Regions from separate parts of the Homo sapiens genome. Here region 2 is linked to region 1. The links come from fine-mapping of genetic effects on gene expression. Tissue or cell type: tibial nerve. Region 1 holds a variant in brackets; the other region holds the start of a gene. All regions are shown on one strand. Distances are between the middles of the regions.

The links. PIP is the estimated chance that this variant, and not a neighbour inherited with it, causes the effect.
Region 2: KATNIP starts here. The variant in region 1 is fine-mapped to the expression of KATNIP in tibial nerve (GTEx, PIP 0.92).

Annotation. Positions count from the first base shown.
Region 1 is chr16:27,633,729-27,636,488 of GRCh38, forward strand. All of the region lies in intron 5 of KATNIP (katanin interacting protein), which reads left to right. Among named protein-coding and RNA genes, the nearest start is that of KATNIP, 85 kb to the left of the region's middle. RefSeq lists an enhancer at 1-611. The variant T/C (reference allele first, on the strand shown) is at 1,215.
Region 2 is chr16:27,549,076-27,551,575 of GRCh38, forward strand. It overlaps KATNIP (katanin interacting protein), which reads left to right and starts at 1,069. Exons shown (of 28, transcript NM_015202.5): 1 at 1,069-1,102. The coding sequence starts at 1,096. It overlaps GTF3C1 (general transcription factor IIIC subunit 1), which reads right to left and starts at 838. Exons shown (of 37, transcript NM_001520.4): 1 at 595-838. The coding sequence starts at 815. RefSeq lists enhancers at 735-814, 825-934.

The DNA of each region.
Region 1 (2,760 bases):
CAGAAAATGTCCTCATTGTGCTACTGAAGAAATCAAGGCCAAGAGAGGTAAGGTGACTTCCTTAGAGTTGCATAGCTACTAAGGAAGAGGGCAGGCTGGGATTTGAACTCTGGGCTGTGGTTATAAACCCAGTGATCTTTCTGCCTCCCCACAGGGGCATCTTCAAGTCATTGATTAACTGGGGAAGGGTGTCCCTGCCTGATCTCAGTGCTGAGGAGCAAGGCCTGGAGGACACACAGCCTGGAGGCCTCCTTTTGTCCCCTGCAATGAATATTAATTTGTTGCTAATGAGGCCTTTCTTCACTTCTCACTTAAGACAGTTCTTCTACTTGTTTTGAGAGCCTTCTATTATCAGGAGCCATATTTGTGTCTTAGATTGTGGCTTAATAGCTGGCCCTAGAGTCTGTGCAATTTAAAAAACTTGGCCTAAGATTAATTAGCATCCTCCTCAGTCTCTCCTTGTGGTCCCACACTTCACAGGGCCTAATCATAGCTAATTTCCTGATTTCCTGATGCCTCGAGGGCTGTAATTGTCCTTCTACACTGTATCAGTCAGGGGTCAGTCAGTGCCTAACAGCAGAGACCACTCAGGCTATTTTAAGCAGAAACAAATGCAGTGCAGGGAGTCGGGTGCTTACGAAGTCCTTGGGCTAGCATGAGGAGGGGACTCTGGGCTGGGCCTCTAGGAATGGTGCCTCAAAAGCATGGCCACTTAGCCTGGGCCTGCCAGGAGAGCGGCTGCCTAGGACACCATTGGGAAGGTGGGGTATCAGCATCAGGAAGGTGTCACCTTAGCTGCAATCCAGGAATCAGGGAGTTACTGCCCCAGCTGTTGGCCTCAGAGTGACTCCATGCCTGCTGGGACAGCGCTATGAAGACCCTGCCCCGCAGCCTGGCTAGCCAGTCAGGAACATTATGGAAGAACTCCATGCCCTGTGCTTAGCACTGAAACAGCCAACATCTATCCCCCTCCTCTCCTCACCTCACTTCTGCTTTCCCTGGCTCGTGTGAGGCCATCTGATTGGCTGAACCTAAATCACACCCAGAACCCAAGCCAAAATGTAACCATAATAGGTCCATTGCACGATGCTGGCAAGTCTATACACATAGACCCTGGGTTTCAGCAGAGAGAGAGATTTAATTGTAGGGCCGCCAAACGAGGAGATGGAAGGAAACCTCAAATCTGTCTCCCGGAGGAGTTTGGGGCCAGTGTT[T/C]TTAAGGGTTTTGGAGTAGGCTGATGTGTGGAGATCATTGATTGGTGGAAGAGTGCAGGGGGAAGTCACGGGACAGGGAGATGAAGAAGCTGTGTTCTCACGCAGATCCCGTTCTTCTGTGGGGGGCCTTCAAACTGGCTAGCGTGAGTTGTTTTGCTGGAATTTAAGATCTGAAAAACATCTTAAGCAATTCTTAAACAAAAGCCTTAATGATTCTACAGTCAGAAATCTATAAGGAATAATGGGAATGCTAATGGTCAGTATCCAGTGAATTTCAGTTACAAGGAAGTGGGTCAAAGTGCAGTGATTAATGCTGAATTATAACTATATTCTGTGAGAATTCTTGTTAACCCTGTGAGGACAGCTTTAGAAAGGGAGTCTGGGAAATGCAGTATTTGGCTTTCTGGCCTCTACCCCACAGAAAGGCTCCCCAGGAGGAGTGTGGGATGGGTACCGAGAGCCGGCCCCCTCCAGTCTAGAGCATGGACTCTGCTCCACACACCCAGGCTTTTGGGAACCAACCTTAAAGATAGACACAAACCAGGGAGCATTCAAAAGTGGTGAATGAACTACATGTGTCATGAATGAAATCATCTGTTAATTTAACAGACATGTATTGATACCCAGCAGGGCCCAGGCACTGTGCAAGGCTCTAGGGTTCAAAAAAAAAAAAAATTCAAGAAGGCTCAGTTCCTGCCTTTGAAGCTCGGGCTGTGAAGACATGGGGACTGCTTAACTGGGAGGAGGGTGTGACACCTGACTTCAAATACATGGATGGCGGGCCTGGCGGGGTCCAGAAGTTAACCACTTGAAGCCTGTGGGTCAAACTTGCCCCCAGATAATGGTTGTTGGGCTCATACAGCTTTTAAAAGACTTTTCGAAGCTTGCCAACATTTAAATTAACAAGATTTTATATTAAAAATATATCTAGCCAGGTGCAATGGCTCATGCCTCTAATCCTAGCACTTTGGGAGGCCGAGGAAGGAGGATCACCTGAGCTCAGGAGTTCAAGACCACCCCAGGCAACATAGTGAGTCCCATCTCTACTAAAAATAAAAAAATTAGCCAGGCATAGTAGCGCACACCTCTAGTCCCAGCTACTGAGGAGGCTGAGACAGTTAGGATCGCTTGAAGCCAGGAGTTCAAGGGTGCAGTGAGCCATGACCGCACCACTGCACTCTAGCCTGGGGGACAGAGCAAGACCCTATCTCAAAATCAAAAATCTAGATCTCTTCTTCCCTGGAAAAAATGGAAAAGTCTGGCCCCCACGCTGGGCCATCCTCCTCCCCACTAGGCAGCCAGCAGCAGGAGCCAAGTCCAGCTACTGCCTTTGGATAGGGCATGAGCTTTCCTGTTTGCCAAAGTCCCCACCACTCCCCAGAGCTTCAGTGGTGAGGCTGAGTGGTAGCTGTGGTTTATTATCAGATTTAGGCTATGATTTCTCTTATCTCGTGTTTCCATTTCCCGTCTGGTTCTTTGGGGCATTTGAATTTGTAGCCCCTGGAGAGTGGAAGGAGTAGGCTTTGGACTGCTCACTGGCTGTGTG
Region 2 (2,500 bases), 85 kb before region 1:
CCTGGGAGGCGGACGGAGGTTGCAGTGAGCCAAGATCGCGCCACTGCACTCCAGCCTGGGCCACAGAGAGAGACTCTATCTCAAAAAAGAAAAAAAAGAACAGCACCTCACCCATGAAGTCCCTGATAAATGTCAGCTTTTAGCATTATCGCTAATTGTCCTGATACGCAGATCTCGAGTTGCCCTAGGCTATCTGCACCGAATGAATATACCATGAGGGTCTGTTGATCTCAGGAGTCTCCAGTCTGGCTCTAAAGTGTCTTTCCTGCTCTAATCCTATCCTCCAATGTAAAGGAAACATTCTTTTAAGCCTGAAGAATATCCCCAATCCTGTTCGCCATTACCCCAAAACACACACAGGGACAAAACGGGACATCACTAGATTCTCCCCCTCCCCCCGCCAACTCCATCGGACTCCAGGGCCCTGCCAGGCCTGAGGGACCCCAGATTAGCCTTACCGCCGTGCCCCAACTCAATCAACAGGCCTCCGGTACTTGCACAGCCCCACTCCATTCCCCCGCCCTGCCCCCAGCTCCATCAGCCCCCGGGCCCTGCGCCCGCCCGCCCGCCCGCCAGGCCAGGCCGCCCGCTGACCGGTCCTGGAGCTGTAGGTCGGGTCGCTCCCGAGGCTCCTCATAGAAGCTGATGCCCGGGTGCGTGGCGAGGGCCCGCCAGAGAAACTCCTGCGTGCAGGGTTCCAAAGGCAGCGGGAAGGGCGGCACTCGCGTCTCCAGCCGGCTCCACAGCGCTGGCAGACACAGGCCATCGAGCCCCTCCAGAGCGACTTCGTCCAACAACGACTCCAGCGCGTCCATTGCTACTTCAGTCGGCGGCGCCCGGGGCGCATGCGCAACGCACCGCCAAGGGCCTTGGTCCATCGCGCCTGCGCACAACGATCCGGGGCCCGGGGAGGTGGGTCAGACCCAGGGTTCGGAGGAGGAGTTCCAGCGCGCCGGCATGACGTCACTCCCCGGGGGCGGGCTCAGTAAGTGGAGCTCCACCGTCATTGGTCCGGGGCCCCGCAGTAACCAGGGGAACTGCAAACAGTGTAGAGGCCGCTTCCGGTTCGAGCTCCCGGAACCGCCGCCTCTAGGGATGGACGGTGAGTGTCTGTGGGCCCCTCCGGGAGGTCGGGCTGTTATTCTCCCATCCCTCCCGACCGCGCTTTGGGCAGAATCCTAGGCCATGAACCCCTGGACCACCACTTCCTGACCCAAGGGGGTCTCCGAAATGAGGGATAGGGAGGCTTAGTGGTCTGGAACGCGGAGGAGAGCCTGGGGGAGTGGTCAGTGCTGTGACCATTCTGCTCGGCTGTGGTCGTGAAGGAAACCGGTACTGGCCGGGAGCTCAGTGAAGGGATGTAGGGTGGGGAAGGAGAAGTAGAGGTCTGAGGAGGGTCTTGTGAATGTTGGGATGTGGAACTGTCGGATTTGGGAGTTGATATGAAAACAAGCTTGATCGTGGGAGTGCAATCGTCAGGTGCTGGGAAAGGGAATTGGTGTGGGGGGTGAAGGGAGTTTAGGAAATACTCCCTTTCTGTGCCTTGGCGTTAATAATAATAGCTCCCTTTAACAAAGTGCTTTCCAGTACCAAGAACTCTGTAAGTACTCTTGGGCAACACCTCGCTAAGCTTCATACCAGCCTTTTGAGTTCAGCGTTGTTCCATTTTACAGATGATGAAACTGAGGCTCAGAGGTGTTAAGGAACTTGCCCAAAGTCAAACAACCAGCATGTAGCAGAGTGAGTGAGAAACCCAGACACCCTGTCTCTGGAGCTGAATTATGGAGCTTGAGATTTGGACCGGTTTTGAGGGTCCCTTTATTCCAGAGGTTGTAAATGCAGATGTCTGCAGAGGAGAGTCTAGTGAGCCGGATTGAGGCTGTAACTGAAAATCAATTCCTCACCTGAAAGGAAAGCTGCTCACCAAGCACCAGCTGATTGTCCTCTTGGGGTACTTCTCAAAAACAGGGTTGGCCAGTCACTCTGAAGGCCAGAGACAGCTTGTGGGCCCCCATTTAGGGATCCCTGATTAGAGTCATGGTATTGACAATTGGAAGCAAATGGAAAATAGGCTATTCTGATATCTCACTTTGCAGATGGGAAGACTAAAGTCTAGAGAGACTGGTAGGGTCTGGGCTAGAGTCCAGATCATTTTTCTAATTACAGCACTGTCCCTCACTTCTCGGGAATTTGTTCCTGGGGAATCCACATTCTTTTTATATTCACTGAATGTAGTGTGGAGAAAATGTTTTTAATTGAACATTCTGTCATATGCTTAAAATATATCTTTTCCCTTTGTACTTTAGAGGTACTATAAAATGTGCTTTACCATTTTGCCTTCTGGAAAGGTCAATGTAATGTTGCTATAGAACATCAGTCCTCAAACCTTTTAAGCCTTGGGACCCCTGTATGCTCTTACCTCAAAGAGCTTTGTTTATTTATATTTATGATATTTACCATATCGAAGATTTAAACTGGGAAAATCTTAAGATGTCCATTA